4 linked regions of the Homo sapiens genome follow. The protein of the gene in region 4 interacts with the protein of the main gene of each other region in a pairwise test. Each region holds a gene or a part of one and is shown on either strand. Other genes may lie near its edges. The genes, in order: ZNF792, DOK2, ZNF587 and TXK.

Region 1 (6,478 bases), on a different chromosome or scaffold from region 4:
AGGAAATTCTGACATATGCTCCAACATTGATGAACCTTGAGAATATTATGCTAAGTGTGAAATAAGCTAGCTACAAAAAGACAAATACTTATTATTCTACTTATATGAGGTACCTAGAGTGGTCAAATTCATACAGACAGGAAGTAGAATGGTGGTTTTGAGGGGCTGGGGAAGGGAAAATGGGAAGTTATTGCTTGACAGGTACAGAATTTCAGTTTTGCAAGATTGAAGAGTTCTGGAGACGAATGGTGGTGATGGTTACATAACAATACGAATCTACTTAATACCATTGAAGTATACACTAAAAATGGTTAGGATAGTAAATTTCATGTTAAGTATATTTCATCAGATTTTTTTAACATTTTTAAATAAACCATAAAAAACTATGGTGCACTCACCCAGTATAGCACTACTCAGTAGTAAAAGGAATGAACTATATATACACACAGCATGGATGATTCTCAAGATAATTATGCTGCATGAAAGAAACCAGACCAAAAGAGAGTATAAATACTTTATGATTCCAATTGTGTTAATTCTAGAAAAGGCAAACAAATCTAAAGTAAAAAATGTAAATCAACGGTTTCCTAGGGAAGGCAAGGAGGGAATGTAAAGGGGCATGAGGTAGCTTTGCAGGTGATGGATACGTTCATTATCATGATTATGGTATTGGTTCCCTGAGTGTACATAATATATGTACAAAACTTACCAAATATGAATAATTATTGCATGACAATCACATATCAACAAAGCATTAAAAGAAACTGTTGCACATAAAAATCCAACTTCCTACTCATTTTAGAAAATCCGATTTGGCAACCCTATATTGACTCTGTCATCTCTTTCTTCTTGCCTTGGGAGCAAAGAATGGCTGGCTACGTCATAGATACTACAGTCCCTATAGTATAGGATCTGCTTTTTCTCAGTCCCTATTTTCCTGCCAGCACAGCACTGGCCTTCAGATGCACAGCACGGAGATGGTAATCCACAAAACCAAAACCTTTAGATTATTTGCTCTGCCAGTAACATTAGTCATAGGACAGAGGTCTGAGGTCCTGAGAATTTCTGCAAACCCTGAATCCTGCACAGCCACATTCAAGGGAGCATTCACGGATGCACATTTAGCAGAGTTCCATTTCTGCTGGTTTGCTATAATCTCGCCTACTCCCTATTAATCACATCCAGTGTTTCTGTACAAATTATGGTCCCAGCTGGGCCTGGTATGTCTTACAGTTAAGAGATACCTGCCTAATGCTGAACTTCAGGGCATATGGCTCCTTGGCAGGTGCTAAACAGCATCTGCTTTACAGTATTGGGGAATATGGGGCACCCCCTGGGAATAAGGGACCCAATTCATGCTGTTCCCACATGCACTGGAGGTTGTCACAACTGCCCCCTCCTCGGGATAAAAATTCACGCCATTCAGACCACAATATTATACCCATAAATTCCTACAATTTTTCCTAGGAGGCCTTGGTGGCAATGCAAATGAGGTCAAATCTGGATTGACAGTTGTTTCTCTGCCATCCTCCTGTCCCCTCCAAGATAATCTGGAGACCCCTTCAGTTTGGTAGATCTTAACTCTGCTCTTGAACCACCCCACACAGTGATCAGAACATGGAAGACTAAAGGCGGCTTTATCATAAGGCCATTATCATCACATGAACCAGGGCAATACACAGGAGATAAGTTGTTGTGTAGAGTAACATGAAGGCTGGACAAATCCTTCACAGGCATAACATGAGACCAACAATGTCCCAGAAAAAGGGAAACCTTCTCTAGAACAAGCTGTTGGCAAAACCCTGCTCAGGTCTTCACAGCCAAAAGCTGGTCATGTCCATGGCTAAACCAGCCATACAGGGCGGGAATGACATCTTCCCAAGGCTTCAGACTACTCCTAATTCCCTTTAGGGATTGGAAAGAGAGAGGAGAGGTCTGCCTTCCCTGAGCACAGTGGAGTGGTGGACACACTCTTTGGAGAGCTGCAGTGTGTGGTGCTGACATGGCTTCTATCACAACCCCAGCAGTGAAAAAACGCTGATAAACTCTACAGTAAGAGAATGTAACTTGTCTCCAGAAAGCTTCCAACACAGCTAGCATTCCTAGGGAACCTCCCCAGGGTGGGTACTTGGATGAACAAGTTTCAACTTGTAGTTGACAGCGCCCTGATAAGGTCTGTTCTCAGAGCTTATCTCTGGTGTGTGCTGTGAACAGGGAAGGAGCACATTCTCCATGCTCCTTTCTCTGATGTGAATCTTCTGATGCCGAATGAGGGTAGGCCTTTGGTTGAAGGCTTTCCCACATTCGCTGCATTCGTAAGGCCTGTCTGGTTTGTGAACTTTCAGGTGCTGCCTCAGATTGGACCTCTGCCTGAAGGTTTTCCCACATTCGCTGCACTCATAAGGCCGCTCGCCGGTGTGAAGTCTCCGGTGGTTATTGAGGCTGGAGCTTTGGTTAAAGAATTTCCCACATTCACTGCACTGGTAAGGCCGTTCACCAGTGTGAAGTCTCCGATGGCTATTGAGGCTGGAGCTCTGGCTAAATAACTTCCCACATTCATTGCATTCATAAGGCCGCTCACCAGTGTGAACTCGCTGATGTTTCATGAGGTCAGAGCTTCGGCTGAAGGCTTTCCCACACTCACCACACCCGTGAGGCCGCTCGCCAGTGTGAACTATCTGATGTTGAATGAGGCTGGCAATGTGGCTGAAGAATTTCCCACATTCGTTACACTTGTAAGGTCTTTCTCCAGTGTGAACTCTCCAATGTTTAATTAGGCTGGAGTTGCAGTTGAAAGATTTCCCACATTCACTGCACTCATGGGCACTTCTGCCCGTATGAACCCTCTTATGATGAATGAGGTTGGAACGCTGGCTGAAGAACTTCCCACAGTCGCTGCACTCATATGGCTTTTCACCAGTGTGAACCCTCTTATGCTGAATGAGGTTGGAGCTTCGGCTGAAGAATTTCCCACAGTCACCACACACGTGAGGGCTTTCACCGGTGTGAACCCTGCGATGTTTAACAAGGCTGGAGTGCTGGCTGAAGAATTTTCCACATTCACAGCACTCATACGGTTTTCCTCTATTGTGAACTTTCTGGTGTTGAGTGAGGTCAGCGGCGTAAGTGAAGAAGATTCCACATTTGCTGCATTCATAAGGCCTTTCTCTGCTGTGGATTCTCTGGTGCTGAACAAGAGTGGATTTGTTATTGAAGGCATCCCCAGATTCACAGCACTTGTTATGCCTTAGTGCAATGTGAAAATCCACCACACCTTCGGTGGCCTCGTGCGGCTCCCCATCGCTGGGAGTGACCTCACACTGCAGAAACCCTGCTGTGGCCACAAAGTCCTTCCCACCCTCCCTGCAGGTGGAAAGCTGATCTGATGTGTGGTCTCTGCAGGTCTTTACAGGGGAAGCCTGGCCCTCCTCCGTTCTGATAGGGTTGTGTACGTTCTGCTGCACCTGTTTCCGGGGAAGGTTTGCACTGAACTCAGAGCCTTTCACATATGCCTCACACACAAATGGTTTCTGCCTGGGATGTGTTGTCTGGTGTTCAGCCAAATGCAAAATGTCTTTCAAACGTAGGCCACATATGTCACAGGGGCAGGTCTTCTGGGGGCACAGAGTTGCCTCGGGACTCCTGTCCTGTGCCACTCCTTCTACAGAAACGTTATGCTCAGAAGGTAAGTCCTTGCCCTCTGTTCCATGGCAAAAATCTGAAAGCAGAGAAATGCTGGTGAAGTTCGTATAAACTTTAATAGAAGGAAAGAGCCCCATCACCTATGCTTGGCTGACCCAAGAATAAGCCCATGGGATTGTTGGCAACACAAGAAGGCTCAGGTCAGGGTAAGGAATAATCTGCTCCGCCATACTGTGCCTGGCCAGGTCACAAAATACAGGAGGCCTTATCAGGACCAGGGACACAAGGATGGGGGACAGTATTGGGCAGAGAGGCAGGGTCTCCCACTCACTTCTCTTTAAAGGCCTTTTGGCAGGGCCTGGGCTGCTGGTAACCTGTGAGGGCTATGCAGTGAGAGCATCTAGACCCAGCAAAACCTGCAACTGAGTAGCTGGTGTTCAAGCACATCAAGGAAAAGCACGTATCTCACAACACATTAAGTGTAGGCCAGTGTTGGAAAGTGCCGCAGAGGAAGCTGAAAGAGAGAAACGGAGGCCAGAAAAGTGGGGCACAGCCAAGGGGCCCAACTCAGAATAATAATGACAAGTAGATAATGTGTCAAGCACGGGGAAGGAAAAGCAGAGACGTGGTCTGGCTACTGGCATTGGTATCAAATGATGATGAATAGGAGAGAAGATGCTGGTATGATGTAAACACAGTGGTGAAGTCACATCCTCCCCTAGCTCCCATCGCTGCTTACCAGAGCCAGGCCTGCCATAAGCCCCTCTGGCCATGGCTGATGTCATATCCACACTGTCAGGCACCCAGGGCTCTTTCCCCATCTCCAACTGGGAAACGATGTGGGACCTGAAAGATATAAGTCCTAAGGGAAAGACAGAGTGGGTCAGTGGCCAGCACCTGCCCAGTTGAACTACCCCATGATAGACTACAAGACAGGAAGCTCCGTATGACACAGGGACATTGGGTGGTCACGGCAAGCAGTAACCACATCAGTGATTGGAATTCCTGGCACAGTCAGGCTTAGGAAATATTAGCAAGAGGAAAGGCACAGAATCTAAACCACAGAACTGTCAGATCTGGATAATCACCCAGGAGGGAATGGCCGAGTCAGAGGTAGTCACACAGCTAACCGCAAGACCCCTCATGCCTGGAGCTTCCCTGCAAGGCTTCAGGCAGCAGGTGTGGGGGCAGCTCAGGGAGAGGAGGGAACAATGCACATAGCTCAGCCCCAGAAGCCACAACACACATACCAGGAAAGTGGGGATGGAAGCAGTGCCAGCGGTCTGGCTGTGGGAAGGAAAGAGCTGTTTCTTGGGCAAAGGGGACAGGCAGAGAGGAGCTCGGGACACCGGGGTAGGGGTGACAGCCTTACCCAGCGAGGCTATAAGTGCAAAGTTTTCCAGCATCACATCGCAGTACAGGAGTCTCTGAGCCTCATCGAGGAGCACCCACTCCTCCTGGGAGAAGTAAATGGTCACGTCCTCAAAGGTCACGCAGCCCTGCCATGATGGGGACAGTTCGTTCCATGATCAGTCTCTGTCCTTGGGACTCCCTATCCATCCCCTGCTCACTCTCCTCCCCAGCTCCACAGCTCCAGGAGGTAGCAGGCCCTGGTTCTGTGGGCGCCTCATGTGACCACTGTGTCAGCCCGCAGCAGCAACAGGCAGGGTGCAGAGAGGCACCCTCTAAGCTCTGGGCCTGAAGTCCAGGGCCCAGCTCGCTCTTCTGCCAGCCTCTTCCCCTAGTGTCACCAATGTCATGCTTCTCAGATACAAATGTGGGCTTCTCCTTTAAACCCCAGTCCAGAGCCCTGGGGTGAACAGCTCATACTCCCTCCCACGTGCGTTTCACTCTTTGGACTGCACCACCCTCACAGCTCCAGACCTTCACCACGGCCTCCCATTGCCACTGCTACCTTCTCCCCATCCTGGCCCCTATCCTAGCCATCTCCATGGGCTCCCACGAGTCACTCTGCACATGGCATCCAGAGAGTGCCTGGCAAACATAAGCACCATCCCAGCCTGCCCCAGACCTTTGATGGCCTCCACTGCCAAGGGCAACACCCAGGTAAGGGGGAGAGGGAGCGCTCCACCCTTGCCTTGGAGCCCCCTAGCTCCCCTGGCCTGGCTTCAACCTAAGCCACCCACGGCACACATGGATGTCACATACACTTGGCCTTCTTTGTTGCACATTCTGACCCTGTCATCACTCACACTCATTTAAAAAAGAAAAAAAAAGCCAACCCCTCTGGCCATCCTACCCCCACCCACCTAAGCCCAGCAACTCTGCCAACTGACTCCTCTTGCCCCAAGCTAATTCCCCAGCCTGAGGACAAACCCCATCAAGGGTCACCACAGAAGCCTGGTGAGAACATAGGTGAGTGTGTAAGCACCAGCCCAGGCCTCACTGCAATATTACCTCCTCTACTGCTAAGCCTCAGCATCCATCTCATTCATGTCTACACTCTTTGGGATGATCTGGCCACCTGCCAGACCCTCTGATACACCCACATAGCCCCTCCATCACCACCATGACCACTACTGTTCCTCACCTGTCTTTATGATGCCAAACAAGCCACAGTCCCCAAGCAAGAACCCTGCTCTCAGTTTTCCAGCCCCACCTTCCTCTTTTTTTTAACATCATTGTCACCATGACCTGAAGTTTCACCTCCTAAATCTCACACACAGCTACACTCCCGTCCACACACCAGATGTCACATTTTGGATGTTTCTAACTGTTGAAATAAACAAAGACCAATGAAATGAGAAAAGCCAAGGCTACTTACTCAAAGCTCACTATAGCAAGAGAGACTCAATGCAAGCCGGGAGTGGGAGAG
Region 2 (8,423 bases), on a different chromosome or scaffold from region 4:
CATGCCACCACGCCCAGCTAATTTCTGTATTTTTTGTAGAGACAGGGTTTCACCATGTTGGCCAGGATGGTCTCGATCTCTTGACCTCATGATCCACCTGCCTCGGCCTCCCAAAGTGCTGGGATTACAGGCACGAGCCACCGCGCCCAGCTAGGGATGCTTTCTTAAACCCCATCCCTAACCCAAGCCCTGGGACCTCCAGCTTCCCTTCATGGGAACTGCTGGAGCCTCCTCTGCCCTCTGTGCTTTCCCCTACAGGCAGAGACTTGGCTCTCTCCTCTCCCCTCTCCAGGCCCTTCCTGCTCACTGCCACCATTTCAAGGATGGAGCTAGGCACTAGTTCAGACGCTGTTTACCCCTCTACGGTCTCTCCACCTCTTCTCATTCTCCTTCCTTCTACTCCACTTCTGCCATCTTGTCACTCTATTCTTTGCTTCACTCCATCTCCCTCTCCTGGTCTCTCCCATCCCCTCGCTGCTTCTCACCCCTCTTTGTTCGTAGCTTATCCTTTCTCTCAACCTGCCCTGATGCAGCTTCCCACTCACCTTGTCCCGCCCAAAGCGCCGCAGAAACCTGTAGGGCCAGTCGTACAGCTGGGTCCCTGGCTCGGGCCCACCCCACAGCTCCAGGGCACTCTCCCCAGCCCGGAGGGTATAGGACCCCCGCAGGTGGCACCTCTCACTGGCTTCTGTAGGTCTCATGGTCACAGCAAATTCCTTGTGGGGGCCGACTGGGGAGAAGAAGAGAGAGAAGGCGAAGGCAGTTAATGGGAAACAGCTGGCCTGCCTCACCACTGCCCAGTTCTAAATGAGCGTACCAGAACTTTTCTAGAAAGTATTATCCACACACTTATGGCCCCCTGCCTGGGTCTTGGAGGCTGAGCTGCTCTGTGCCAGGTCATACTCCCCAAAAGGCCAGGTACCTCCACCCCCTACCCTAGTAGGCATCACGCCCCTACCCACATCCACCCCAACCTCGTGCCCACATCCTTCCTGCCCCTGTCGCCAGAGCCACAGTCTTGTCTTCCCCACCCCATCTCTCACCCCAAACCAGCCACCACCCTAGTCCCTACGGTCACAGCTGCAGGTGAAGCCTTGGCCCTGCCCTCCCACTGCCGGGGCCCTGGGGGTGAAGCTTAGATGGAAGGCAGATGAAAGTTTCTCCTCCCTCCACCAGCTCCTCAAAAGCAACACCTGGGGCCAGGCGCAGTGGCTCATGCCTGTAATCCCAACACTTTGGGAGGCTGAGGCAGGTGGATCACCTGATGTCAGGAGTTTGAGACCAGCCTGGCCAACATGGTGAAACCCCGACTCTACTAAAAATACAAAAAATTAGCCAGGCGTGGTGGCCGACGCCTGTAATCCCAGCTGCTCAGGAGGCTGAGGCAGGAGAATCGCTTGAACCCGGGAAGCGGCGGTTGCAGTGAGCCGAGATTGTGCCATTGCACTCCAGCCTGAGCGACAAGAGCAAAACTCCGTCTCAAAAATAGAAAAAAGCAGCACCCTCACCTGGGCCCCCAGCCTTCCCCTCTCCCACCAGCAGGCCCTAGGTAAGATGAGGTGAACCAAGGGAGAGACTCAAGGCAGGGTAGGCTCCCTACGTTGGGCTGCACCCGGAAGCGAGAAGGAGAGGCTGATAACGGGGCTGGCCCAGGCTGGGGATAACCACAAGGCAGGAAGACTCGGGGCCAGCAGCTAGCCAGCCCACACCTCCTCTCCACCTCACCCTGGGGAGAGCCCCCAGGGGAGAGCAGGGCAGCCCCCGCCCCCTCACCTGTGACTGCGCTGCTGTACAATTCATTTTCCTCCATGCAGGGCCGGCTCTGCTTTCCCTCTGGCCCCGAGAGCTCCTTCCTCTGCCCCTAGGGAGGAGGCGCCCCGTCTCATCACCTTCCCCGATCCCCAGGCCCCCCTCTGGCCCAGGCCTTCTTTCAGGCCACCTCAACCTGCTGGCTCTGTCTGCACACTGGGTTCGGGTCCCCCCACATGGAGGAAGCACCCCATCACCCTGACCTTGACACCTGTAACACTTGCCCACAGGAAGTATCTAACACCCTCGGCCTGCACGCCCCCTTGCCCTTTCCGCACCCCGCGCGACTCACGGGGAAGGCCAGGAGGCAGATGGCCTGCACCCAGTCGCCGCGCTCCGCTGCAGGGGCCGCCAGGAGGTACAGGCGCTCCTTGGTCTCCAGGAAGAAGGCACTGGTGTCCCGGGGGCTGCTGGCCTCTCCGCCGGCCTCGGCCACCCGCAGGCAGTCACTGAGGCGGATGACCTTCCGGGCAGCCTCACACCGACGAGGCTTCTCCGGGCCCTCCTGCAGCTCCAGCCGGGCCAAGGCGCAGTCCGACCCTCCATACAGTGAGGCGCCGAAGCGGCGCCATTTCTGTGCCAGAGGCGTGGGAGGCGGGGGCGGGAGGGAGCCACCCAGAGACGGGGAGATCGTGAGCCAAGGGGAGAAGAGGAACCGTGGGAGGGGGACTGGGGCAGCCACTTGGAGATGGGGAGAGAGAGGTGAAGATCACATGAGACCCAGGGAGGCAGAGAAGAGGACAGTGACTGCAGGAATTAGAAAATCGGAGATCAGCCGCCAGCCCCGAGAAGGAGGCCCACGAGCAAGAGCAGAGACTGCCCAGGCAGAAAGCAACGCCGGGATGAGCCCAAAGCAGGCTGCAAGAAGGCCAAACAGGCCCACCGCAGTGGACTCCAGTCTGGGGAGGAAAGCGGGGCAGTGGCCGAGGCCCAGAGGAGGGAGTGAGGAGGGCGGCGTGTGACCCGGGCTGGAGACCTCATTCTCCTTCTGTGCGAAATCCTGAAGGAGAACTTCTCTCCACCCTCCTGAACCTTGCTGCCTCATTCCTTGATAGGTTGGGCCATGAGAGAGAGACAGGTGTGCCCCCCAGTGTTGGTTAGGGGACGAGGACTTCCTGGTTCAAGGAGGCCAGGGAAGGGGAAAGAGGATGGACAGCCGGCTGGGGTCCAGGCCCCCAGAGGCCCCAGCCCAAGCTGAACACCAGCCACATGCACCCCACTGGGGTTGGGAAGGAACCTCTATTGTCATCCTAAACTGTCCCTCCAGCTGCCCCTTCCATTCCCTTCCAAGGTGTCCGGTGAAAAGAAGTCAACATAGAGCAAGAGAGCAAAAGAGGCAAGAGATGAAAGCAGCACATCCCCCACCCCCACCCAGGGCAAACAGCCCTCAGTAAGGAGCACAGTTTGGGACCTGGTTGGGGCCTGGTTCAGGAGACAGCGTCGGGTAGGAAAAGAGCCCTCCCAAAGTTGAGCTCTGGGTCTAACTTGGTGGGTGCACAGTCAGACCTATAAGGGTTTTGAATATGAAACTCCCTCTCCAACCCAGGAATTCTAGCAGCCTCCCAGGCCCCCTGCCCAACCCCAGCCCAGCCTCACTCCTACCTTTCCAAACGTCTGCTGCTGCTGAAGATACAAGAAGCCTTGTTTCACTGCCCCGTCTCCCATCCTCTGACCATCTCGGAGCCCCAGGCTTCAGCTCTCTCCTTCACTCCTGCCCTTGCCTCTCTCTTCTTAGCCGTGTGTTTCCCTTCTCTGAAGTTCATTTCCTCTCTGCCTAGGGTTTTCTATACTATTCTAGTCTGCTCGATGACGACAGGCTGATAGGCCCTGCGGTTTCTTCTGAGTGTGTGTTCTTTTTTTTCTTTTTTTTTTTTTTTTCTGAGTGAGTTTTATACTCAAGCTTCCTGCATTTCCAGTGAGTTAGAGACAATTTCCAAAAAGCTAAATGCCAGCTCTTCAGTGAGCAACAATTCAGGTACAGAAGTTGGCACAGGGAGGCGCCAGCAAAGAGTGGCTGGCCCACTGGAACAGAGACCCAGAAACCAAACTAGACAGTGAAATCAGTAGTGAAGGCCCCCCCCTCCAAGCTGTACGCAAGTTGGAAGGGACAAACCACTAAGTTACAAATAAGGAAACAGGCTTGGAAAGTCTGAGGGATTTATTCAAGGTCACCAAACCAGAACCCAGGTCTCTCAACGCTTAACAGCTGAATGACACACACGGCACTGCACAGAGAGACACATAAGACAGCTCATGTGGGCCTAACCAGATACCAGTTTCACAAACACACACACACAGAGAGAGAGAGAGAGAGAGAGGCAACCGTTTAACTACATGCGAGCACTCCCTGTCTGCCAACAACACACACTCACACCAACCCTGTAAAGATTCTAGAAAGATGATCATCCCCTCTGGAGAAGGGACTGACTCCCCAAGTACATCTCAACTGTTGGATTTTTGCCTTCTTGCAAGCATTCCTGAGCATTAGAAAGATGCTTAGGTTTCATCTGCAAATTATCTTAAGTTTCAATAGCAATCACTTTCATATACATTTTGAAAATGGTTCAGAGTTACCGAAAGTGCTTCGTAGCTCGCAAAGCTTCTAGGCACACACTTTTCATCAGCCACGCCATCCTTTGACAAAGGCAGGGCAGGTATGAACACACTTATTTGCAACTTGCCTGAGGTCACAGAGGTAGTTGGGGGCAGAGGAAGAAGTAGAGACCAGGGCTCCTGATCTTTAATTCAACATTTTGCAGGGCCCCTAAATGGAATCCAGATCCATGCAAAAAGATCCATTGCTGTGGGGAAATCCAAGCTGCTCAGAGAAGTTTAACTTAAAGCCAGATGGTTTAGAGAAGCAATCTGTATGGAGGCACAGTGCAGAAGGGTTGGAAAAAACTGAGACTCAGACCAACACTCTTGGGGTTAATCCCATAACAGGTGCTTATATAAACAGGCCCATTTCCTCTACAACAGGGGTTCAGTTACCGTGGCAAGGAGCGAGCAGCACCGTGCACAGCTTAGGCCTTCTGCTGTACATGCCATGGACTGGACCAAATAAGCTTGAAAAAAATGAATGTCATGAGCTCTGTGAGGACAAGGATGAGTCACTTCAAACTCACTGCCCTCAGCCGTGATGCCTGGGTTTGAAGAGGTTGATCCAAAGCTCAAGGGAGAACCAAGCATACTGTTTTGGGAAAAGCACACCTTGGGAAGTGGTTAGGGGTATGGAAATGGGATGTGACCTAATCTTCCTCTTTAGTCCCTAAGGAGAGTCAACTCTGCCTGGGAGCTGCATGGTCTTTGGTGCAGGGAGTGAGAAGAGGAGGGCTTTATGGCCATCTTAGGGGCTGCCAGAGCAGTGCCTTCCAAACTGTAACATGTAGATCTTGTTCAAAGTAGACTCCAATAAAGTAGGTCTGGAATGAGCCCTGAGATGCTGCCGGTGGTGGGTGGGTCAAAGCACACTGAGTAGCAAGGTGACAGAGGATGTCCCCTGCTAACCTGATCGCCTTCCCTGAAGGCAAAATGGACACATTCCACTCAGAACCACAGGGGGGCACCCAAGTTTACCAGATTACTTGAAAGTTGTTTAAACCCGGAGGCCTGAACCCCAGGCAATCCAGACACTCCCTTGTCATCCCTTGCTTATGGAAGCTGGAGGAGTTCTCCGGTAGCCGTTGACTGCAGAAGATAGGGCAGCAGAGTATATACCAAGAGCAACACCCTTGCAGTCCTTCTAGGCCCCTTCAACTGTCCCTAGCAGGATTTGTGGCGACCCTGATGTAGAAGCACTAACCCCAGTACCTTCTGCCTAGCCATGGGGAAACCCTGTAAACAGGAGCCCAGAGACATTGCTCCAAGACACAGCAGAAGCGCACAGAATGAGAAGCCCTTAGGGTCCACAGGCACCAATGATGTGTAGAAAAAGCACTGTAAAGGAGTTGAGGGTGCCTCTTGGCTTGTCTTTGTTTTTACGGGAAAGGAAAAGGCACTCCAAACCCCACCTGTGGCTCATTCTAAGCCACTGGGATCCTGTCCCTTACAACAGTTTCTCTCAGCAGGAGTCAGGAACCACAGCTCCAAGAAATTTTCATTACTATTCTGCTGCAGTGATTAGCAACCCAATCCTAACATAAGAGGGCTGGGACCTTGTCTTTGGGGCAACAAAGGAAGGAGGAGAGGAGACTGTGTCTGACTCCTTGGGCCGGCTTGGGGATTAGGTAACCCTCAAATGATGTGCAGGTAGGGAAGCTAGCTAAGGGGTAGTTCTGGGCACACAACAGGTAAGTACGTATAGGATAGGCAGAGAACTGATGTGGGCCTGAGACGGGTGAAGGACTGAGCGAAAGAATTAGTGAGCGTGTATTCTGAAGGACCCCATCCCTGCCCCTTCCACCCCCAGTGGTCCCTGACTGTGGGGTGTGGGAGGGGGACAATGCCAGTCTCTTGAGCTTCATTTGTAGCCCCCCACCCTTTCTCCATTAAGTCTATCACTTTTCTCAGTACTAAGGAAAGAGAGAACCCAGTTCTAGAAACCCGCTGAGAGGAAGGGCCTATAACATAACATAACATAACATAACATAACATAACATAACATAACATAACATAACATGTTACCTAACAGTGACATAATATTTAGAATGCTTTATGTCTTCATATGAAACCCACATGCACCCTAGAATGAGACATAAAGAAGTTAATACATTCAACAGTTTTTTAAATTTATTTTTATTTATTTTTTGAGATGGAGTCTTACTCTGTTGTCCAGGCTGTAATGCAGTGGCACGATCTCGGCTCACTGCAACCTCCGTCTCCTGGGTTCCAGCCATTCTCCTGCCTCAGCCTCCTGAGTAGCTGGGATTACAGGCGCACACCACCATGCCTGGCTAATTTTTTGTATTTTTAGTATAGACGGGGTTTCACCATGTTGGCCAGGCTGCTCTCAAACTCCTGACCTCAGGTGATCCACCCCCCTCAGCCTCCCAAAGTGCTGGGATTAAAGGTGTGAGCCACCATGCCCCGCCTCAACAATTATTTACTGAGCATCTACTCTGTGCAGAGGTACTAGGGATACAACATAGACAGAATCCTTGTTTATACTATGTCTGCTTTTAGTTGGAGGGACTGATAATGAAAGAGTAATAATATGTAGTTTTGGACAGTGATCAATGCTGTGATAGTGATAGGCACAGGGGACAACTTTCAAGAGGGTGGTGAGAAAAGGCTCTCTGAGAGGTGACAAGTGAGCTGAAAAGTCCATGAGGAGAGTGAGCCAGCCATTTCACGATCTGAAGGGAAACCAATCCAGGCAGAAGTTACTGCAAGTGCAAAGGCCCTGAGGCAGGAGATCCTGGCTTTGCAGAACTGCAAGGCCAGAATGACCACAGAGCATTGAGCCAGAGGGGGCATGGTAGAGTGAGGTCAGCTCATACGACCTCTTGAGCCACAGCAAAGATTCGAATTCTAAATGCAACATGAGGCCACTTAAGGATTTTAAGTAGGAGTGTAAATTATCTGAATTATGATTTTAAAGGAATGTTCTGGCCAGGCGCAGTGGCTCACACCTGTAATCCCAGCACTTTGGGAGGCAGAGGCGAGTGGATAACCTGAGGTCAGCAGTTCCAGACCAGCTTGGCCAACGTGGTGAAACCCTGTCTCTACTAAAAATCCAAAAATTAGCCAGGTATGGTGGTGGGCGCATGTAATCTCAGCTACTTGGGAGGCTAAGGCAAGAGAATCGCTTGAACCAGGGAGGCGGAGGTTGCAGTGAGCAGAGATGGCGCCATTGCACTCCAGCCTCGGCAACAGAGCAAGACTCTGTCTCAAAAAATAACAAATAAATAAAATAATGTTCTGCAGCGTCCAGCTATATGGAAAATGGGTTATCAAGGGGCAAGACAGGAAGCAGGGAAACTAATTAGGAATCTATTACCAGAGCACAGGAGAAAGGTAATGGTGGCTTGGACCAAGGTGTTAACAGTGGAGATGGATGGAGAAGTGGTCATATTGGGTATATATTAGATATAGATTGAACAGGACTTGCAGGTGACTTGCATGTTGGGGACTGATAAGACTTGAAGAACCAACTCCTGAGTGTTTATTAGGAGCAACTGGATGAATGGTGGTACCATTTACTGAGGAAGGGAAGACACAGGGAGAAACACGGGGAGGTTGGGGTGCGGGGGTGGGGGAAGGGAGGGTGGACAGAAATTTGGGCCTGGCCCACTGTGAAACTGTTACCTCTATTCAGTCCAGTAGGGAATCCAAAGAATTTCCATTGCAATTGTGACTCTGAGAATATTTCATTGCCCGATGCCAGGTTCAGAAAGCCACTGACCCCATCACCCCGCCTCTTTATACGCTCGGAGCTAATGATTGGACGCTGGGAGGTTTTGGGGAAAAACAAAAACCCAACATCTGAAAAGGTCTATGCTCGCTAGAAGTTAACAGTCAAAAGCTCTGCCACTTAAATCTTCTGCCTCTTAAATCTTCTCTGAGTCAGCCTAATTGGCAGAGCCTAATTTGCATACAGAACCCTAGCTGCAAGGAAGTTTGGGTAATGTAGTTTCCAGGTGCCCTACCTCTGCAAACCAGGAAGACCTACTAGG
Region 3 (6,861 bases), on a different chromosome or scaffold from region 4:
AAATTTAATCCTTGCTTTTAATGACTTGTGCACCCCAATTTACTAAGAAAATAAACCATTTAAAAAATAATCTTGAGTTGGGCATAGTAGTTTATTCCTGTAATCCCAACACATTGGGAGGCAGAGGCAGGCTGTTGACTTGAGCCGAGGAGATTGAGACCAGCCTGGGCAACATGGCAAAACCCTGTGTCCACAAAAAATGCAAAAATTAGCCAGGCAGGGTGCCTGTCTGTAGTCCCAGCTACCCAGCAGGCTGAGGTGGCACGATCACTTGAACCCTGGGGGTGGTCAAGGCTGCAGTGAGCCATGATCATGCTACTGCATTCCAGCCTGGGCAGCAGAGCAAGATTCTCTCCAAAAATAACATAAAAAGTATGTGTGTGTGTGTGTATATGTACACACATATATACGTATATATGTGTGTACATATACACACACACACACATATATGTATATATATAAAAAATGCCTTTATGTGTAGGCTTGATTTAATTTTCAATTTTATGTGAAGCATAAATTGAGCAGTTTTTCTATCTCAATTTTTAATCTATTTTAACATTGTATTACATTATCTATTATTTTCTCTCCAAATTGATAAGCAATGTACACCCCTCAGACATGGACTGTGATTTCTTTTTTTTTTTTTTGAGACAGAGTCTTGCTCTGTTGCCCATGCTGTAGTGCAGTGCCACGATCTTAACTCACTGCAACCTCTGCCTGCCAGGTTCAAGCAATTCTATGCCTCAGCCTCCTGAGTAGCTGGGATTACAGGTGCTAATTTTTGCATTTTTAGTAAAGACATGGTTTAACCATGTTGGTCAGGCTGGTCTGGAACTCCTGACCTCGTGATCCACCCACCTCGGCCTCCTGAAGTGCTGGGATTACAGGCATGAGCCACCACACCCAGCCAGGAAAGTTCCTTATAGATTCTTTCTAGCTATTGAAAAGAGAATTATAATCATCTAAAGAGGATTAATTCAACACTTAGGGAAAGTAGAGGTTAGCAAGAGGAAGTTACTTCTCTTAGAGTATGTGATTCAAAGGAAAAAATGTGCCACATCAAATATACATGGACTGGCTAAACATTTCTAGGTACATGTAGATTTATAAGCCACTGTAAGATTCAACACAATGAGGAAATTACTGGTGTAATAAAAATAAACATTAGATTGATGAAACACAGTAAAATAATTTCAAACAGGAAAGAGGTATGAATCTTTTGTACAAAAAAAGTTTGACATATATTTAATTCACATACAAGCAGGAAGATTAACTTCATAAGAGAATTAACAAAAGTTGTATTAATTCAAGACAAGAGACTGCAGAGACTAAAATTGCTTAGTACTGAAACTTTTGCTTATATAAACTGTAGTTTATGGAGAAAATAAAGAATTTTTTTGTTTTTTTTGAGGCAGGATCTCACTCTATTCCCCAGGCTAGAGTGCGATGGCACCATCTCGGCTGATTGCAACCTCCATTTTCCAGGAAGGCTCTTTAATTCCCCCTGATTACAAAGGTTTTGTGTGAACATAATTTGGTGTAATAAAAAAAAATTTACACCACAAGAGACAAACATACTCTTCAGTGTGTGTGGTCATAATTTGTTTGAACGAGCCCTTTTAAACTTCTAGATATCATTGAAACTCCTATGTTGATTAAAAATCATCAAAGATCTTTCCAGTGAGAAGGATGAAGATATTACTGAGAATGAAGTATCACTATTTCATGTATGTGCCTGTATGTGCTTATATAACATGCTGTAATACAAGGTGACATTTAGGGGCTGAGACTGTTAACATCTGACTGTACCTTGCTATTTGTAACTTACAATCTTATTCACATTTCTCAAGTGCCATGCCTTTAGGTGCCTATACATCATGCTATCATAGGATTTCTAGGGATAAGCCGAGTGCGGTGGCAGATGCCTGTAATCCCAGCACTTTAGGAGGCCGAGGGGGGTGGATCATGAGGTCAGGAGTTTGAGACCAGCCTGGCTAACGTAGTGAAAGCCCATCTCTACTAAAAATACAAAAATTAGCTGGGCGTGGTGGAGGGAACCTATAGGCCCAGCTACTCGGGAGGCTGAGGCAAGAGAATCACTTGAACCTGGGAGGCGGAGGTTGCAGTGAGCCGAGACCATGCCATTGCACTTCAGCCTGGGTGACAGAGTGAGACTCTGTCTCAAAAAAAAAAAAAAAAAAAAAAATTTAGGGATAATATCTAAGCCCATATAACATGCTGTTATAAAGTTATAAAGTATAACATTTATGGATTGAGTTTTTTTTTTTTTTTTGAGATGATGTGTCTCTCTGTCACCAGGTTGGAGTGCACTGGTGTGATATTGGCTCAGTGCACCTTCCACCTCCCAGGTTCAACCGATTTTCTGGCCTCAGCCTCCCGAGTAGCTGGGACTACAGGCACCCGCCACCATGCCCGACTAATTTTTGTATTTTTAGTAGAGACAGGAATTCACAATATTGGCCAGGGTGGTCTTGAACTCCTGACCTTGTGATCCGCCCACCTCAGCCTCCCAAAGTGGTGGGATTACAGGCCTCAGCCACCACACCTGGCCAAGATTCTTCATATAGCTGATTATCTTGCCATTTCTAACTTACAATCTTTTATCCACATTTCTTAACTTTCTTTTGTTACACTAAACGGGACAGGAAGTCTTAACTCTTGTATCCACCAAGCATGTTAGGAAAATAACAGAGATTCCATTAGCAAATTAAGCTCCCCAAAAAACACAAATACATATCTAAAAAATGTTGCAAAGACAAGAAGTGGCCAGGGCGTGTTGGCTCACGCCTATAATCCCAGCACTTTGGGAGGCTAAGGCGGGCGGATCACGAGGTCTGGAGATCGAGACCATCCTGGCAAATACAGTAAAACCCCGTCTCTACTAAAGAAAAGAATACAGGCCAGGTGCAGTGGCTCACGCCTGTAATTCCAGCACTTTGGGAGGCCGAGGTGGGTGGATCACGAGGTCAGGAGTTTGAGACCAGCCTGACCAACATGGTGAAACCTGGTCTCTGCTAAAAATACAAAAATTAGCTGGGTGTGGTGGCACGCACCTGTAATCCCAGCTAAAGAGGTGGCTGAGGCAAGGAGAAGTGCTTGAATCCAGGAGGTAGAAGTTGCAGTGAGCTGAGATTGCGACACGGCACTCCAACCTGGGCAAGAGAGCAAGACTCTGTCTCAAGAAACAAAACAAAAAAATTAAGCTGACGTGGTGGGCGCTTGTGGTCCCAGCTACTCAGGAGGCTGAGGCAAGAGAATGGCGTGAACCCGGGAGGTGGAGTTGCAGTGAGCCGAGATCGTGCCACTGCACTCCAGCCTGGGTGAAAGAGTGAGACTTCTCAAAAAAAACACAAAGTGTCCACTCAATAACTTTGCTTGAAACTGTCTTCATGTTCTTCACTTCACAAATATAAAGCTGTTACAGTGGACTTTGTGAGGTTCCATGTTTTTGGTCAGCCATAAGAGGAAGAATAATTCAGAGTGAGAGGAAACAGATTCTAGGCAGCCCTCAGGGAAGTTGAGGAGGTGGCACCCTGCCTCCGGGTCCCTCAGAATGTCCCATCTCCCTGTCAGTATCAGTGTCCCAGATAATCTTCTTCTGATTGGGACATTTCCCTGGGAACAGTGGTTACTTGCCAAATTCACATTTACGGCCAAAACTGTGGCTGCAGTGTCGACATTCATGCAAGTGGGGAAATGGGCATGTGACCCCTGAAAAAAGATTCTGGATTCCATAATCTCACCTTGCTGAGAAGAAACTGCCATTTCAGCAGAAAGTGCAATGACAGTTTCTGCACAGGGACTGGAGATTATCTCTAGAAAAGAGCTTGGAGTGAGGAAATTAGTTAATGTGGATGAATGACGTTACCCATGGAGAATGAAGTAAGTAGCTAGAAGACAAAAGCCTCAGAACACATAAATCTCAATGGGTATTGAGTAGAGGACTCAGAGCTCTGAGATAATTGGAGCTCATGGCTATCCTAGAACTTGGATAACATAAAGTTCTTGTTTCTACAAAGTGTGTATCCTTTCCATATGTGAGAACTGTGAGGAAGTACAAACTTGGAACAAAAGAAATAGTAAGGTAATCTTAGAAAGATGTTGAAAAGAAAGCTATGGTGGCATCTTAACTGTTTCACTGCCTGGCAATCTATATGTATTGTCACTTTGGGACGCTTATGATTCCACATGAAGTGGATAACCAGCTCATAGTTCTTGTGGTACTGAAAACCAAGTATTCAGCCAGGTACAGTGGCTGACACCTGTAATCCCAGCACTTTGGGAGGCCGAGGCAGGTGGATCACTTGAGCTCAGAAGGTAGAGAGCAGCCTGGGTAACATGGTGAAACCCCATCTCTACTAAAATAAATAAATAAAATTAGCCAGGTATAATGGCACATGCCTGTAGTCCCAGCTACTCAGGAGGCTGAGGCAGAATCGCTTGAACACAGGAGGTGGAGGTTGCAGTGGGCCGAGATCATGCCACTTCACTGTAGCTTAGGAGACAGAGCTAGACTCCATCTGGAAAAAAAAAAAAAAAAGAAAACCAAATATTCCTTGCAGCAAAGTGACATCACTGAAGAATGAATGAAGTCCAACATACGTCTTTGTTATTTCATTATTTTTAAATATATTAATGAAATGGGAAATAGATAAAATTCATTTTAAAAAACAAGCCTACAGGTGAGGCCAGGCAGGGTGCCTCACCCCTGTAGACCAAGCACTTTTGGAGCCTAGGCAAGTGGATCGCCTGAGCCCAGGAGTTCGCGATCAGACTGGGCAAAAAGGTAAAACCCTCTCTACAGAAAATACAAAAGTTATCCAGTTGTGGTGGTGCATACCTGTATTTCCAGCTACTCTGGAGGCTGAGGTGGGCAGAGTGCTTGAGCCCAGGAAGCAGAGGTTGCAATGAGCTGAGATTGTGCCACGGTACTCTAGCCTGGGAGACAGAGCGAGACTTTGTCTCAAAACAAAAAAAATGCAAAACATAAACCACTGACTCAAAAGTTATAACCACTTATTAAAATAATAAACAATTTCAAATACTAACCATACTCCCTCTTGGTAAGATAGAACAGAAATTCTTGGACACTGATGGTAGATAGATATACAAATGAGCAATAATTTCATTCTTAAGTCATAGTTTGGCATTGCTTAAAAAGTTGTACATTAGGCCAAGCACAGTAGGTCACACCTGAGAAGCTGAGGCAGGCAGATCACTTGAGGTCAGTTCATAACAAGCCTGGCCAGCATGGTGAAACCCCATTGCTAATAGAAATAAAAAAAAAAGTTATCCAGGCATGGTGGTGCACACCGGTAATCCCTGCTACTCGGGAGGCTGAGGCAGAAGAATCAGTTGAACTTGGGAGGCAGAGGTTGCAGTGAGCCGAAATCATGCCACCTAACTCCCGCCTGGGTGACAGAGTGAGACTCTGTCTCAAAAAAGAGTTGTACTTTAATCTATCACGTGACTCAGGCACTGCACACCACCATATTACCATAGTGAAACATACCTACATGAACAACTGCATTCAAATATAGCAGTTTCATTTATAACAGACAAAAACAAGAAGCATGTCATTCTTTTTTCTTTTTGTAGAGAGGAGGTCTGGCTATGTTGCCCAGGCTGATCTCTAACTCCTGGCCTCCAATGAACCACCTTGTCCTCCCAAAGCATCAGGTTTACAAGCATGAGCCACCATGCCTGGTTCAGCATGTCATATTCTAAGCAATACGAAAAGAATGAAGGCCAGGTGCAGAGGCTCATGCCTGTAATTTCAGCACTTTGGGAGTCAAGGTGGGTGGATCACTTGAGGTCAGGAGTTTGAGACCAGCCTGGCCAACATGGTAAAACCCCATCTCCACTAAAAACACAAAAATTAGCTGGGCGTGGTGGTGTGTACTCATAATCCCAGCTACTCAGGAGGCTGAGGTAGGAGGATTGCATGAACCCAGGAGGCCCAAGTTGCAGCGAGCCAAGACTGCACCACTGCACTCCAGCCTGGGTGACAGAACAAGACTCCATCTCAACACGAAGTCGCTTAAGACCGAGGACAGCAGACATTCTGATGTTTTCCACATTGACAGCACTCATAAGGCCTTTCTCCAGTATGAACTCTCCTGTGTTTAACGAGACGGGATGCTTCAGCAAACGATTTCCCATATTCACTGCACTCATAAGGCCTTTCTCCTGTGTGAACTCTGATGATGAAGGAGGGTAGAGCTTCGCTGAAATGTTTTTCCACATTTGGTGCATTCATAAGGCCTTTCTCCAGTGTGAATTCTCCTGTGTTTAATGAGACTGGAACATTCAGAAAAGGATTTTCCACATTCACTGCACTTATAAGGCTTTTGTCCAGAATGAACTCTTTTATGAACATGAAGCGCAGAGCTGGAAAGAAATGATTTCCCACATTCACTGCATTCATACGGCCTTTCTCCAGTGTGAATCCTCTGATGTATAGTCACGCTGTGCTTATTGCCAAATAATTTCCCACATACCTCACACGCATATGGCCTTTCTCCAGTGTGAACTCTCTCATGAACCAGAAGATGATACTTCCTGTTAAATAATTTCCCACATTCCCTACAATTGTAAGGTCTTTCCCCAGTGTGAAGTCTCTGGTGTTCAGTGAGGTGGGATCTGTACCTAAATGATTTCCCACATTCCTTGCACTCATAGGGCCTTTCTCCAGTATGACCTCGCTGATGGTGAACGAGGTTGCCCTTTTGACCAAAAGATTTCCCACATTCTCCACACTTGTAAGGCCTTTCTCCAGTGTGAACACGCTGATGGTTAATAAAGCAGAACTTCTGACGAAAAGATTTCCCACATTCCCCA
Region 4 (8,102 bases):
TCTTCCATTCACGCAGATAAGAACAAGCCTCCTGTAAACAGAAATATAGGCCAAGCAGAGCAAAGCAGAAAAAGCGACAAAGCAGCAACCTGTGTCCCCTGCCACCTCCACTGGCAGGACAAGCTCAGCAGTGACTTAAGGATCTTTAAATATTAAAAGCTGTGTGAGCATCTGCTCTTTATTTCCCTCAAGGTCAGAACTAAAGAAAATGCTGTAAATTACAGCAGGAAGGATTCGGTTATATATAAAATAAATCACTGTGAGTGTTGAGACAAGGATTTGATTGTCCAAGGGATTAAATAAGGGACTACCTATTGGCGGGATATTTTGAGGATTATTCTCTCTGGCATGGATTTGATGAAATCTCGTTCTCCTTTCCAGCTTCTGTTAATTTGATTTGATGGTAAGAATCACCTGTTGTCTACTGTATATTGCAGCTGAATGTGGCTACATTTTCTGCTGGGTAAAACAATGAGTGTTTACTATTGACAAGGAGACAGCTAAGTGATGCCTCAAGATGTATTACTGTTAATCAAAAAACAAACAAACAAACAAAAAAAGTCCAGCGAAGAAGATTGCTTAAGCTGAGGAGTTTGAGGTTGCAGTAAGCTGTGACTGCACCACTCCACTCCAGTCTGGGTGACAAAGTGAGACCCAGTCTTTTAAAAAAAAAAAAAAAAAAGTTTATATGTTTGTTAGGGTCATTTGCCAAAAACATTTGTTGTTTTAAGCATTGTCATAGAATCCTGGCTTCAAAGGCTGCTATAGGGTGGGAGAAGATAATTGTGGAGCGTGGGATATTGATCATACTGATGGGAGATTTGGAGTGGGGTCTCAGGGCACTGCTCCAGTGAGATTCAGTTTGTGAAACGTACTTGGTATTGCCAGCATTTCCATCAACTCACAGTTGCCCTGAGAACAGATCCAGCCTAGAAGAGTTATTTAAAGGACAGGGCAAGGGAAAGCAGCTGGGGGCTTAAAGAATTCACCTCTTAGCTCCCCTGTTTGCCTAATTTCTCTGCCTTTCTTTATTCCCAACTTAGAGAGTAGAAAGAGTGGTTTCTAAGTCTTGGTGTGCCTGAAGCATGCCTGGGGTGCTGTTAAAAGGCAGGTTTCTGGGCTCATCTCCATAACTGGATCTGAGGGTAAAGTAAGGATGTTTTGGTCACACTGCCTTTCTTGGGCCTCTCTTTTCAGAGTCCTATCTTACTCCTTTTTGTATCTGATTCTCACACCAACTTTGTTAGGTCAACACCTTCCATTATTACTATTATGAATATGAAGATAAGGAGGGTAGCTGTGGTAGGCAGCCTCTAAGATGGCCTGATGATATCTGCCTCCAGATATTCACGCCCTTAGGCAGTCCTCCTCCTTGAGTATGAATTGGACCTAGTACCTCACTTCTTGTGATTAGAATATGGTAAAAGTGATGGAACGTCACCTCTGAGACCAGGTTACAGAGGTGGCGGCTCCCATTCCTGCGATCTCGGGCTTTCTGTCTCCTGCATCGCCGGCTGCTTTGTTGGGAGCACTCTCAGGCAGCCCGCAGAGAATCCCCATCACGAGAAACCGAGGCACCATGACCTGCTTGGAATTCGCTTAGAAGTGTATTCTCCAGCTCTGGTTGGGCCCAGCTTGACTGCAACTCCATGAAAGATCTGGAGACACAAGCACTCAGCTAAACCATTCCAGAACTCCTGGCCCACAAAAGTGTGAGATAAGTGTTGTAAGTCATTTGGTCTCAGAATAATTTGTTTCCAACAATAGATAACTAAGTGTGTGGCAAAAGCAGGAGAAGCCGCAGATTAAAAAAGAACTTGGCCACTTTGGCCACCCTTCTGCCTGGGGCTGGAGTTTGATGCCCTTTCTGAAAGATTAAAATGGACACTAGATGTGTCTTTTCTTTTGTCTTTAAATCATTTCAGTTTTTAACTCGTCACTGCAGCTGCCTTTTGTAACTACTGCAGATCCCCACATTTCTCCTCTGTGGAGCTCCCCAGGCCAGCAGTGCCCACACTCCCTGCCCACCGAGGGTCAGTGAGCAGTACGGCTTCTGGCCCAGTGCCAGCCACGCCCGTGTGCCTTGTGGCCAAGCACTTCTTCACATCACAAGCTGGCTCGATGTCTTGGGTGTGATGTCTGCGAGCTTATTATGAACTTTGAGCTCACAGAAAACAGTGTTCTAGGAAACACTGTTTTGAGATGTGGGGGAGTGGGGAAGTTGTGGGCAAGGTGCCTGCAAAGACCAACTCACATCAGCCCCTTCTGAGAAAGAAAGAAAAATTGCCTCATAGACCAAACAAGGGTTTGGGTGGCTGCTGTCCGTGTCTGGGGAGTTGCCCTGGCAGAAGCTGGGAAACAGATGAGCGGTCATCATCAGGAAGATTTCTGCCTTTCCTTACAGCACCTTTTACTCCCAGAAACATTGTCTTCCCTGGTGCCCGGGACTCCATCCAGCTTGCCAGGCTTCTAGAATCTCCTCACCCCACACAGCACCCCTTCAGGCCATAGACAGGTCAAGCACCACTCTTCCACTCAAATTGATCAGTTTGGTGTCCTGTTAGCTAGGTACTTGTTTTCTCTTAGTCACCAGTGACTCCCCTAAAGTAGTTATCCTCCCTTCTTTAAGGTTTCACTGGCAGTATAATGTCAAAAAAACAGAACAGTCAAGGTCTAACACAAATTACTCACTTATTTTATCCATACATTTAGAAAAACTAACATCTCTGGAGACCATCACTTCTTAGAATAATGGACATTTTAGTATCAAAAGGAAAAGTGCACACACGTGCGAACACAGACACAGGATCACTTCAGACCCCAAATGTATAAAGGGCATAAACTCAGAATAAAGGATAACTTTCTAAATTGAATAAATATGTGAAAAACTCAATGTCCCAATTTTACTATTTTCCCCTCTCCTTGGTGTGGGGTCTTGGTTTGGTGTCTAACTCCAAACCAAGAAGTCTAACTCCAACTTGGAAGTCTTTTCTAACTCCTGTTCAGAGGTAGAAATCCATCCATGCTATAGCCAAGCTAGTTATGTGTCACTCTCCCCAGATAATATGGGTTAATGTGGCTAAAACGTGCCTATCTTCAAAAGGCCCTTAAGAAATGGGGCCTTTTGAAGATAGGCTGGGCGCGGTGGCTCACGCCTGTAATCCTAGCACTTTGGGAGGCCGAGGCAGGTGGATCACGAGGTCAGGAGATCGAGACCATCCTGACTAACACAGTGAAACCCCGTCTCTACTAAAAATACAAAAAGAAATTAGCCGGGCGTGGTGGCAGACACCTGTAGTCCCAGCTACTCGGGAGGCTGAGGCAGGAGAATGGCGTGAACCCGGGAGCAGAGGTTGCAGTGAGCTGAGATCGTGCCACCACACTCCAGCCTGGGAGACAGAGTGAGACTCCATCTCAAAAAAAAAAAAAAAAAAAAAAGGATGTAGTGGTGGGCATTTATGGCAGAGTAATGAGGAAGTTTGGCCTTTCTGTAAATTTCTGGAAAAAAAAACAAAAAGGATATGTTGCAGCAAACTTACAGAATCAGCTCTGGTCACCCAGAGCCATTTTTCCAAAGCCACAAGTTTTTAAGGCTTTCCCCACTCACCACAGCCCATCAACTGCAAAAGCAGCCGGTATCAGACATTCCTCATCTTAAAACCACAACCTGGAGCGCCTGGCTTGGGCAACAAGCCTGGTCTTTGGGTTAAGGCAGCTCTCAAAACTGAGCCAGTTTCAAGCCATGTTTTTAAATATAAATCACTAGCCATGTGCCAGTTATTATGATGACCAAATTCAGTAGGAATGCATTTCACTCAAGGCACTGATTCAAAACGAAACCCTGACATCGGAAATGCCAGGGGATGAACTGGAGGTGACGATGTAAACTTCAAAACATTAGACATGAGGAAGCGACAGCGGCTTTGCTTCCCGCGCAGCCCGGGCCCCACAGTTCTTCACATCTGTTCCTTTGTCCTCTTCAGAGATGACCTTAGGAGCTATTCTGAGAAGGGGTGCTTCTCACTTTTGCTTTCTTCCAGTGCCCCCTGGTGGAAACCTGTTCCCAATCAGCCCAGCTGTTGCCACCCAGGAACCTCTGGGGGTGGAAGGAATGTCAATAGGAGCCTCTCCTAGAGGACAGAGGGGCGCAAATCCTTCCAAGGAAAAAACACAAATACCAAAGATGGGAGGGCCAACTGCCTATCCCATGACAGATGTGCCGGTTTCTAAAGGTCACAGAGATTACATCTGATGCGATGCCCTTTTTCTGATTTGCTGGCCTGAGGCTCATCATTAGAGATATTTACTGAGGAATGAGAAGTAGATGAAAAGAACAGCGCAGATGTAAGCCTGGGAGAGGAAGCTCAGCTCCTTCAGTGATAATCTTCAAGCCCGAATATATTCTTTCCACATTTCCTTCCAGCAGGCAAATAGTCATTGCCTATCTCTGGGGCATTTTTGTCACTCTGGCAAAGGCCCTTGATATGCATGAGTTCCTGCCTAAGTTGGGAATTTGCTAAAAGCTCAAGAGCTTTCCCTCTGCAGGTTAATCGGCAAAACAATTCAAAGAATGGCTTCTGTAATCACAGAATGCCTGTGGAAGGGCGCTGTCTATTTACTTACTGGGAACACCTGTGCTGCTGTAAATTGAAAATGATCATGAAATGAATACTCCTTGATACCTGCATTGGAATGAATTTTGGCCCAACACTTCAACCTGTAAATAAAGATGCCTGCTGTCTTGGAAAGTCATGCCAAGCAAGGGAACACCAGGGAGCTGTTTGGCTTTCATAGTGTGATTTTTCTTCTCGCAATGATTATTTATTGGGCAGCAACTCTGCTGGGCAGAGGATGGAACCACAAACAAAGCAGTGGTTTGCCTTCCTGCTCACCACTGTTCTTGGACTTTGAGGGAAATTAAATAAAATTGGGTCATAATTAAAGCAGTGGTAGGGTAGGTCTGTATCTTTCTTTAAAGGCCATTGTCTTTGCTATTGAATCAGGAAACATAAGAATTTTTGAAAATATTTTCTCCTAAATTCCAGGCTGCAGAAGACAGTGAAGACAACTAAGGGGAATATTATCAGGTGTGGCCATGTGTTGTGAGGTCAGGGAGCTGGGGGAGGCATTTCTCTAGTCCCAGATACTCCTGCCTGCTGACTGATAACAGCAATTTCTCTTTCAAAGTTCTTGACTTGGCCAGGCATGGTGGCTCCTGCCTGTAATCCCAGCAGTTTGGGAGGCCAAAGAGGGGGATCACTTGAGGTTGGGAGTTTGAGACTAGCTTGGCCAATGTGGTGAAATCCTATCTCTACTAAAAATACCAAAAAAATTAGCCGGGTATGGTGGAGTGTGCCTGTAGTCCCAGCTACTTGGGAGGCTGAGGCAGGAGAATCGCTTGAACCTGGGAGGCGGAGGTTGCAGTGAGCCGAGATCATGCCACTGCACTCCAGCCTGGATGACAGAGCAAGACTCCATCTCAAACAAAACAAAACAAACAACCACACACACACACAAAGTTGTTGACACTTGAATAAGGTGGTTCCCCAAAATGTAACTACTCATAGCCTAACATTGACCAGAAGCCTCAATAACATAAATGTTGATCAACACGTATTTTGTATGTTATGTGTATCATACACTGTATTCTTACAATAAAGTAAGCTAGAGAAAAGAAATGCTTTAAGAAAGTCATAAGGAAGAGAAAATAGATTTACTATTCATGGAGTGAAAGTGGCTCATGATAAATGCCTTCATCCTCGTCATCTTCATGTTGAATAGTCTGAGAAGGATGATGAAGAGGAGGGATTGGTCTTTCTGTCTCAGGGGTGACAGAGGCAGAAGAAAATCTTCATGTAAATGTTTATACCATGTTTTTCAAGTGTCAAACTATTTAAATTTAATGTGTTGTGATGGTTAATTTTATGGGTCAACATGGCTTGGCCATGGTGCCCAGATATTTGATCAAACATTATTCTGGATGTTTCTGTGAAGGTAATTTTTGGATGAGATTAACATTTAAATCGGTGGACTTGGAGTACAGTGGGTCACCCTCCATCATGTGAGTGGGCCTCTCCCACAGTTGAAGTCCCTAATCAATGAAAGTCAGACCTCCCCTGAGCAAGGAGGACTTTTGCCAGCAGACCGCCTTTGGGCTCAAACTGCAACTCTTCTCTCATTCTTCAGCTTGCCGGCCTGCCCTGTTAGATTTTGGACTTGCCAGTTTCCACAACTGCCTGAGCCAGTTCCTTAAAAGAAACCTCTCTCTGTGTTCACCCTGACTGTTACAAATGTCATGCTTACAAACATGTACACGCCTCTGCACTGCAGTAAGCATGACATTGCTGAAGCGCTGCAGTACAGCATGTTTACTATTTAACATTGTGTCTGTCATTTATACCTTACTGAGAAAAAGTGTGAGAGCCTCTCCTGAGGCCTGCTTTGATAGCAGGGAGAGAGAGTCTCCTGGAGTCCTGAACGGGGGAAACATCTGCCTTTGAGTCAGGGATAAAGTTGGCTCAGAAGAGAGGAGTTGGAGCTGAAGATTCGCTTTCGTTTACTAAGCCTTCTTCCTCCATTTTGTCTTCAGAGGGAAAACCACACCTGCTCCTATTTGGTTACCTTAAATGTATTTTGTGAGTACCCAATAAATAGTTGCTGAATGAGTTCTAGGGAACTGGGGGATGGGGACAAAGTGGTAAAGTAACTGAGAGTAGCTGGTATGTTCTAGCCATGTTTGCCTCTGCAATCTTATTTAATCTTCTCATCCACAAGGATAGTCCTATTGTGATGCTCATGGACTCTGGGTTTGACTTCTGGCTCAGCTGCTTTTTATGTGACTGGATAAATGGCTGAAGCTCTCTGTTCCTCTGTTTCTTTATGTGTAAGATGGGGATCATAATGTTAGTATAGTGAGTAAGTTAGCATGGCGTAGTATAGTAAGATCTAAGTATCTGTCATGCCTGGCATATGGTAAGGGCTGTGTTGGTAGAAGTGGGGAAACCCTTTCTTAGAAGACAACTTTTATTACCTACGTTTTCTAGATTTGATTGCCCAAAATCACATTGTTGCTCCAAGAAAAGGGAACAGTGATTTGAGTGCATGTCTGCCTGATACTAAAGCCTGCTGAACCCCATATGTTCTTTTAATACAGAAAAGAAAAAACAAACACATTTGAATGCCAGAGAGTTTTTAATAATTTCATTTGGCATCTCATGGTTTGGTACTTTATTTTGGATAAGCATTTGTTTAAAAATATATGTCTGGAATAAAAGGTTAGACTTATGAGCCCCCACAAATGCTGGCTAAAGCTCCGGAAGCTCAGTCTTCACCTTTGCCGTTCCACTCAGTCAAAAGGTCACGGTCAGCTTAGCTTTCTCTGTGGCCAGCATCACACTGTGAAATACTGGGTGATAAGATGAATGAGTGGAAAAAAAGAAGAGCTCAGATGTAATGTAAGGGTGTTGATATTGGTGGGGTCTTATTTAACAGTTATTTATTGAGCTTTTGTTATGTGCCAGGCACTGATGCTAGAAGCTAGGGAGAAGACAGAAAAAAAAAATTAAAAATAAAAAAAAAAGGATAAGATGCAGTCCCTGAGATTGAGAAGCTTACAATCTGGTCCAGTGTCTCCACTGGGGTTGATTTTGCCCCCAGGGAACATTTGGCAATGCCTGGAAACACTTGGGTTTCCACAATTGGAAGGTGGTGGTGGTGTGGGTGTTAGAAGGGAGGGGGTTATGTTGCTGCCGGCATCTAGTGCATAAAGGCCAGAGATGCCCTAAATATTCAGTGGTACACAAGACAGCTCCCCACAATAAAGAATGATCCTGTCTAAAATGTTGATAGTGGTGAGATTGGGAAGCCCTGTGAGAGATGAAGCCTACACAGAGAAACTTAAATGACGATCTCAGGTGGTACCTAACTAGGAACCACAGGGCAGGACTGTGCTTTGGGACAGGACATTTGGGACAGGGCATAGGTGCTTTGGGAACTGAAAGGAAGAGTACATGGGAGTGTATTGCAATGGAAGTCTTCCTTTCCAGGCTGGAGGCAGAAATGCACGACGTGTCTGTGAGAACAGAGCAAACAGAAGAAGCTGG

Evidence for each region.
Region 1: the proteins of TXK (region 4) and ZNF792 interact in binary tests that used the Homo sapiens proteins (3 or more experiments, as listed by UniProt).
Region 2: the proteins of TXK (region 4) and DOK2 interact in binary tests that used the Homo sapiens proteins (3 or more experiments, as listed by UniProt).
Region 3: the proteins of TXK (region 4) and ZNF587 interact in binary tests that used the Homo sapiens proteins (3 or more experiments, as listed by UniProt).

The regions. Positions count from the first base shown.
Region 1 is NC_000019.10:34,955,854-34,962,331, forward strand, and holds the end of ZNF792 (zinc finger protein 792), read right to left. Parts: intron 5,142-6,478; coding exon 5,015-5,141; intron 4,505-5,014; coding exon 4,382-4,504; intron 3,719-4,381; coding exon 2,103-3,718; 3' UTR 501-2,102; downstream 1-500. UniProt on the Homo sapiens protein: May be involved in transcriptional regulation.
Region 2 is NC_000008.11:21,910,128-21,918,550, forward strand, and holds the start of DOK2 (docking protein 2), read right to left. Parts: upstream 3,564-8,423; 5' UTR 3,475-3,563; coding exon 3,412-3,474; intron 2,384-3,411; coding exon 2,102-2,383; intron 1,862-2,101; coding exon 1,774-1,861; intron 731-1,773; coding exon 546-730; intron 1-545. UniProt on the Homo sapiens protein: DOK proteins are enzymatically inert adaptor or scaffolding proteins. They provide a docking platform for the assembly of multimolecular signaling complexes. DOK2 may modulate the cellular proliferation induced by IL-4, as well as IL-2 and IL-3.
Region 3 is NC_000019.10:57,859,474-57,866,334, reverse strand, and holds the end of ZNF587 (zinc finger protein 587), read right to left. Parts: coding exon 6,195-6,861; 3' UTR 1,218-6,194; downstream 1-1,217. UniProt on the Homo sapiens protein: May be involved in transcriptional regulation.
Region 4 is NC_000004.12:48,123,898-48,131,999, reverse strand, and holds part of TXK (tyrosine-protein kinase TXK), read left to right. Parts: intron 1-8,102. UniProt on the Homo sapiens protein: Non-receptor tyrosine kinase that plays a redundant role with ITK in regulation of the adaptive immune response. Regulates the development, function and differentiation of conventional T-cells and nonconventional NKT-cells.